Linked DNA regions of Homo sapiens. The protein of the gene in region 1 interacts with the protein of each later gene in a pairwise test. Each region holds a gene or a part of one and is shown in the gene's direction. Other genes may lie near its edges. The genes, in order: PSD and RAB40C.

Region 1 (3,805 bases):
GAAGCTGAGTAATGGAGGGAGGGGACAGAAGGATATTGAGGGGCATTCCATGGAGTAGAAAAGAGGCTCAGCAGGGCTCAGTGGCCCCAGTATTTTGGGAGGCCAAGGCAGGAGGACTGCTCAAAGCCAGGAGTCCAAGACCAGCCTGGACAACAAGCAAGTCTCTACCAAAAATTTAATTAGCTGGATGTAGTGGTGTGCACCTATAGTCCTAGCTACTGGGGAGGTTGGGTGGGAGGATCCCTTGAGTCCAGGCAGTCAAGGCTGCAGTGAGTTATGATTGCACCACTGCACTTCAGCCTCAGTGACACAGTGAGACCCTGTCTCAAAATAAATAAATAAATAAATAAAAAAGACAGAAAAAGGCTGGTCTTCCCCCAGCTCCTCAAAGCCATTTGACAAGAACTTGATTTAAAATGAGCTCCACTGGCACCAGGAACAAGCTAAGTATGTAGCAGGAGGAATGGTGGCTAGACAGTGAAAGAACTTCCTGTCAATATGAGGCAGTGGGCAGAGATCCTAGAGCAGAATTAGGACAGGGAGCTGACGTGGATAACCTCCTGACCTGGATGCCTATGCACACTACAGGTGCTAAGCCCCCAGAGCAGGCCCCCCCATCTCCACCTGGGGTGGGCTCAAGGCAGGGCTCTGGGGTGGCTGTGGGGCGAGCAGCCAAGTACTCCGAGACAGACCTGGACACGGTGCCCCTGAGGTGCTACCGCGAGACTGACATCGATGAGGTGCTGGCTGAGCGGGAGGAGGCCGACTCGGCCATCGAAAGTCAGCCCAGCTCTGAGGGCCCACCAGGCACTGCCTACCCACCTGCCCCACGGCCCGGCCCACTCCCTGGCCCTCATCCCAGCCTCGGCAGTGGCAATGAGGATGAGGACGACGATGAGGCAGGTGGGGAAGAAGATGTGGACGACGAGGTGTTTGAGGCCTCTGAAGGGGCCCGGTGAGTGGGGAAGTGGGAGGGGGAAGTGGGAGAGGGAAGCGGCTTGCTCCTTCGCACTGGCCCACAGGCAGAGCCGGGCTCAAAGGGCCTGGGATAGAGATGGGTGTGGGGCTGGCGGGGCAGTGTGTATAGCAGGAGATTCTAGACAGAGGCCTGAGGCTTGGCAGAACACTGGGGATGTGGGGAGCAAAGAGGCCAGGGGTTCTAGCAGAACAGGGGGCAGGGTGAGAGGCCAGAGGCCACAGTCAAGCCCAGGAACACAGGAGCATGAGTCTGGATCCTGGATCCTGGTGGGAGAGTGGGGAGTGTGGGGACATTCCTTTCCGTCTCACACCCCAGTGTCGCTTGGAGCCTCATCTTCTCCTAAGATGTTGCTAGAAATAGAAATGGGATGGCAGAAGGGAAGCGGATCACGGAAAAGGAGGAGAAAGGGAGATTAGCAGGGAGGGAGGGGATGGGGTGCTGGGGACTGGTAGGGCTGGTGTGCCCCAGGGGGCACTGAATAGCTTGGCGCCCTACCCTAGAGGCTCTTTTTTGTTAGTGGGCTGGAGCCAGTGAAAAGGGGATGATAATCCCCTTAGCAGAGTCAGTGTGAGAGTTCAGTGAAATCCTGCCCCAGCCCTGTGATCTGGGCCCCTAATCAGAGATTCTCCCTGCCCCTGCAGGCCAGGGAGCCGGATGCCTCTCAAGTCACCTGTGCCCTTTCTACCTGGGACGAGCCCCTCGGCTGATGGGCCTGACTCTTTCAGTTGTGTGTTCGAAGCCATCCTGGAGTCACACCGGGCCAAAGGCACCTCCTATACCAGCCTCGCCTCGCTGGAGGCCTTGGCCTCACCTGGCCCAACCCAGAGCCCCTTCTTCACCTTTGAGCTGCCTCCCCAACCCCCTGCACCCCGGCCCGACCCACCAGCTCCCGCCCCACTTGCCCCTCTTGAACCGGATTCTGGTACCAGCTCTGCTGCTGATGGTCCTTGGACACAGAGAGGGGAGGAGGAGGAGGCAGAGGCCAGAGCCAAGCTGGCCCCAGGGAGGGAGCCCCCTAGTCCCTGCCACTCAGAGGACAGCCTTGGGCTGGGGGCAGCACCCCTTGGCAGGTAAGTAATTCCTTTTGTCCCTCAGACTTGAGGCCCCCAGGGCTCCAGAAACAGCTGCTGTAAGGGACAGATCCTGAGTGTGAGGATTGGTTTATATTCCTGACCCCTGAGTAGGGGTGGTTAAGGGATGCAGATCCTGTTTTCCTATTTGGAGGACTACTGCCATTAGCTGTGAGGGAGAGTCCCTCACAGCACCCCTCTTGGTCTCAAGTCCAGTGGCTTGAGAAAGCATGATTCAGCATTGAAGGATCCCAGGAGAATACCCTTCTTGCTCTCCTGGAGGGCCCTTTCTTCCCTTGGCAGAGTCTTTAGCCTGCTCAGAATTCTTGTGACCTTACCCTCACCCAGCCTGAAGGCTTCACCAAAGATGCAGCCACCAGCCTCTCCCACTGCCTCCCTCCCATGTCACCCCTGCCTAATCAGGCATCTCTCGTCCAGCTCCAGGAAGTCCTTTCACAGTCTAACCTTTCTGCTCTCCCCTCTGCCAGCTACCCTCTCAGTCATGGAAGCCATGGCAACAGGAGGGGGTGGCCAGGGAGACCGGGTTGCCTAGCAACCAGGAGTTTCCGGCCTCTGTCTCTGGGCTGACAGGTGGCTTTGCGAGTAGAGCAGCTGGGGTGGGAAGGGGAGGAAAGAAAGGGAATGAGGGTATGCACCCCGACCCTTAACCCCCTAACTCCAGAGCCTGCTTCTGTGTGGGCAGAGGGGGAGCACCAAGGAGAGGTTCCTCTCCCTAAAAAGCAGGAGGGGGAAAGCCTTCGGACCAGTATCCCTGCTGCCCTCAAATCTTTCCCTGGCCCTCCACAGTTCCTCCGTGGTAGCCCATCTATTCCAGCTTTGTCCATAGTCTAAGAGACAAAGGACTATGTTCTGTGTAGGGCCAGGGTGGGAACAGATAATCTATGTCTAATAGCAAATGTAGGCCCCTGGGAGCTTGAGGAAGCAGCCAGAACTCCCACAGCAGCAAGACGGATGTGGGTTAGATTTGAGGCAGGACTTCCACAGAGAGGTGGTAATGATGGAGTAGGCTGATGGAGAGAATCTAATCTCCTTCCCTGGAAAAAAGAAGAATGCTTTCCCCATGTCCCTCCACTCCCTCCCCTTCTCCATCTTCTGGGCCTGGAGGCAGAAGGAGGGTCTGGATGGCTCCTAAGGACCCTGCCCCAGCCTGAGCTGGTGTTCTACCCCGGCAGCGAACCACCCCTGAGCCAGCTGGTGTCCGACTCAGACTCAGAGCTGGACAGCACAGAGCGGCTGGCCCTGGGAAGCACAGACACCTTGTCCAATGGGCAGAAAGCGGACCTGGAGGCTGCGCAGCGCCTGGCCAAGAGGCTGTACCGACTAGATGGCTTCAGGAAGGCCGATGTGGCCCGGCACCTGGGCAAGAAGTAAAGCCACTAGGCTGGGACTGAGGATGGGGGCAGAGGGAATGCATCCTGAAGGCAGCTCTCCATCTAATGTCCCCTGGTCATTGGGTAATCCCCACCTGACCCCCTGCACTTCCCCTTGAGACCCTACCTGTCTCTCTGCCCTGCCCACAGCAATGACTTCAGCAAACTGGTGGCTGGGGAGTACCTCAAGTTCTTTGTCTTCACGGGCATGACTCTGGACCAAGCTCTCAGGTGGGTGTTGACCCCTTGGAGGACAGCCCCCACTCTCCGGGGTTCGTGTTAGGGCCCCAGGATGCCTCCTTTGAGCCCCTCTGTCCCCCACAAGCCGTCCTGACATCACCCTTCCCAAGATGGCTGGGCATGGC
Region 2 (3,805 bases), on another chromosome or scaffold:
GCCGGGCGTTTGGAGTAAGCAGGGAAAGGTGTCGGCGTCCAGCATCCTGGTGCGGAGAACGCTGCCGAACCACTGTGAGAAGGCGGGGAGACTGCTTGTCAGGCTGAGCTGACTTCCTGGGCGGTCGGGAGAAGGATGTGCAGACTGTGGAACTGGCGGGTGTCAGGGACCAGAAGTTACGAAGGCGGTGGGAAGAGGAGCAGCTGTGGGAAGAAGGACTGGCTGCCAAGACCATGGGCTGTGGGCATCCTCAGGGCAGGAGCTGGGTGGAAGAGGGGCCTCTTCAGTCCTCTTGGCAGTGAAGGTAAACAGATGTCAGCAGGGTGGACTCGCACTTTGAGCCTAAGGTAGCGAGGAGGCTTCTGAGCCGACCTGGGGATGGCGGCGCACTCTGATACAGGCAGTGCGCGGCTGTCTCGTGCTGAGATCAGGATTTTGAGTAAAGCAGAGATTTCTGGACGTTTGTCCTTCAGAAATTAGCGGAGGGACAAGGGCATTGGCGCTGTGGAGAGGTAGGGACCCATGGGTATGGGGCGGAAGACCAGGGCACGACCAGACACCGCCAGGGTGCTGCACATGTAGGTAGCAGGGGGAGGTGGTCCAGGCAAGATGGGATGGGAGGGGCTCAGGAGCAGCCAGGTTCTAGTGCTGGTGATGAGGTGGGTGGTGGCAGGGGCATGTGGAAGGGTCTTCTGACCATGGCTTACAGAGGGCTTGGTGCTGGGGGGCCTGGAGTTGTGGAAAGGGTGAAGGGAAGAGTTGGTCCCATATTCCCAGATGGCAGAGTGGAAACAGAAGCACTCGGCCCCTGAGCAGCCTTCGCCGTCTTTACAGTGAACACAGTCCTCAAACCAAACTGGGAAGGATTCGAATCCTGGATGGGTGATGTGGTCCTGGCTGTGTAAACTGACCCTGATGAAAGACATGCCCATCCTGTGAGAGGGACAGCCATCTAGCATCTTTTTTTTTTTTTTAATTTTTATTTTTTGAGACAGAGTCTTGCTCCGTTACCCAGGGTGTAGTTCGATGGCACTATCTTGGCTCGCTGCAACCTCTTGAGCCTCATGGGTTCAAGCGATTCTCCTGCCTTGGCCTCCTGAGTAGCTGGGATTACAGGCATGCACCACCACACCTGGCTAATTTTTTACATTTTTAGTAGAGACAGAGGTTTTGCTGTGTTGGCCAGGCTGGTCTTGAACTTCTGACTTCAAGCAATCCGCCCGCCTCAGCTTCCCAAAGTTGGTGGAATTACAGGCATGAGCCACTGTGCCCAGCCCAGCTCAGCATCTTTGGAAAAGAGCAGAGGGCTGGGCACGGTGGCTCACACCTGCAATCTCAGCACCTTGGGAGGCCGAGGTAGGCGGAGTGCTGGAGCCCAGGAGTTTGAGGCCAGCCTGGGCAACACAGTGAGACCCCATCTCTACAAAAAAAAAAAAAAAAAAAAAAAAAAAGGCCGGGTGCAGTGGCTCACACCTGTAATTCCAGCACTTTGGGAGGCCAAGGTGGGTGAATCACGAGGTCAAGAGATTGAGACCATCCTGGCCAACATGATGAAACCCCGTCTCTACTAAAAATACAAAAATTGGCCAGGCATGGTGGCTCACGCTTGTAATCCCAGCACTTTGGGAGGCCAAGGCAGGTGGATCACGAGGTCAGGAGATCAAGACCATCCTGGCTAACATGGTGAAACCCTGTCTCTATAAAAATACAAAAAATTAGCTGGGCATGGTGGCGGGCACCTGTAGTCCCAGCTACTTGGGAGGCTGAGGTACGAGAATGGCGTGAATCCAGGAGGCAGAGCTTGCAGTGAGCCGAGATCACGCCACTGACTCCAGCCTGGGTGACAGAGCGAGACTCCACCTCAAAAAAAAAAAAAAATACAAATACAAATACAAAAATTAGCCGGGCGTGGTGGCGCATACCTGTAGCCCCAACTACTTGGGAGGCTGAGGCAGGAGAATTGCTTGAACCTGGGTGGCGGAGGTTGCAGAGAGCTGAGATTGTGCCACTGCACTCCAGCTTGGTGACAGAGCGAGACTCTGTCTCACAAAAAAAAAAAAAAAAAAAGAAAAAAGAAAATTAGCTGGGTGTGGTGGTGCACGTCTGTAGTCCCAATTACTTGGGAGGCTGAGGTGGGAAACTCACTGGAGCCTGGGAGGTGGTGGCTGCAGTGAGTCTGACTGTTGCACTACGTTCCAGCCTGGGTGACAGAGTGAGACCCTGTCTCAAAAAATAAAAAATAAAGAAAAGAGGATGGAAGAAGAGAAGAGCTGAGTCCTGGAAATGGGCAGGTACTTTACAGTTTGTACAGCGGCCGGATGTAAGAACCTCATGTCAACCCTGAGTGAAGGTGTAGGCCGGGCGGTCAAGCACAGCACTCTCCAGCAGCTCCAGCAGCGTGGGTAACCCGGTGGGAGCCTGTGTGCTGCTTTCCCTGCCCGGGGCCGGCGGCTGCTGCTGGGCTTTCGCCTGACTTCCTGGTCAGCAACGTTGTCGGCCACCTGGGCACAGCAGGTACAGCCTGTGTGTCAGACCTAGCTGGGAGGGGCGGTAATAGGGTAGATGACATCAGGATTCAGGACTCTGAACACAAACACAGTGACACTGATCAGGGTTGCCGAGGTGCTGTGTTTCGGTCCAGAAAGTCACTGCTGCAGGGGAGGGGAGTATGGTCACAGCCCAGGCCCCGGCCCCGGCCGAAGCTGCCACTGACAGGAGACCCTTCTCTGCCTGTGCCACCAGCTTTGCTCCGAGGGGTGTCTGTGTCCTCAGGCTCTGCCAAGGCAGTGTCAGGCTGATGCCTGCCCGTGTCGGCCGGCCACAGCCCTAGTGGCTGCCCGCAGAGTCTTGCGCCCACCTGATTCCTGCCTGAGAGGAGCCGCCAGGTCAGCTGATGCCAGCAGGACCCACTTCACCAGGTCAGCAAGGAGGAGGCAGCTTCCCTTGGGGCCACGCCGTGCCTCCTCCGTGTGCGCTGCTGCCATGGCTGCTTCTGTCGATAGGCATGTACGTGAAAATGCACACCCGTGGGTGTTCGCTACTGTCAGCGTGGATTCAGCAAGGTTTTGTTCCCTCGTGGCATCAGTCAGCGTGGATTCAGCAAGGTTTTGTTACCTCGTGGCATTAATCAGCGTGGATTCAGCAAGGTTTTGTTCCCTTGTGGCATCAGTCAGCGTGGATTCGCAAGGTTTTGTTCCCTCGTGGCATCAGTCAGCGTGGATTCGCAAGGTTTTGTTCCCTCGTGGCATCAGTCAGCGTGGATTCGCAAGGTTTTGTTCCCTCGTGGCATCAGTCAGCGTGGATTCGCAAGGTTTTGTTCCCTCGTGGCATCAGTCAGCGTGGATTCGCAAGGTTTTGTTCCCTCGTGGCATCAGTCAGCGTGGATTCGCAAGGTTTTGTTCCCTCGTGGCATCAGTCAGCGTGGATTCGCAAGGTTTTGTTCCCTCGTGGCATCAGTCAGCGTGGATTCGCAAGGTTTTGTTCCCTCGTGGCATCAGTCAGCGTGGATTCGCAAGGTTTTGTTCCCTCGTGGCATCAGTCAGCGTGGATTTGCAAAGTTTTGTTCCCTTGTGGCATCATACTCCTTTCCTGTTTGGTTTGGGACTCCCATGGCCCCCTTGATGTTGGAGCCTCTTCAGGTGGCACCTGCGTCCTGGGCTATGCCCTGAGTTCCCGGAGCTCCCTGTGTCCTGGAACAGTCTGTACTTCCAGCAGATGTGGGTCCTGCCTGCCCTGGAAACGGCCATCTCTCTGAAGAGCCTGTGTCCTCCTGGTGGGGAGGGATAGCTAGTATGTCAGCTTCTTA

Evidence for each region.
Region 2: the proteins of PSD (region 1) and RAB40C interact in a two-hybrid assay, tested with the Homo sapiens proteins (one large-scale study listed by IntAct).

What each region holds. Positions count from the first base shown.
Region 1 is NC_000010.11:102,412,013-102,415,817, reverse strand, and holds part of PSD (PH and SEC7 domain-containing protein 1), read left to right. Parts: intron 1-588; coding exon 589-955; intron 956-1,620; coding exon 1,621-2,049; intron 2,050-3,242; coding exon 3,243-3,437; intron 3,438-3,590; coding exon 3,591-3,671; intron 3,672-3,805. UniProt on the Homo sapiens protein: Guanine nucleotide exchange factor for ARF6. Induces cytoskeletal remodeling.
Region 2 is NC_000016.10:596,514-600,318, forward strand, and holds part of RAB40C (ras-related protein Rab-40C), read left to right. Parts: intron 1-3,805. UniProt on the Homo sapiens protein: RAB40C small GTPase acts as substrate-recognition component of the ECS(RAB40C) E3 ubiquitin ligase complex which mediates the ubiquitination and subsequent proteasomal degradation of target proteins.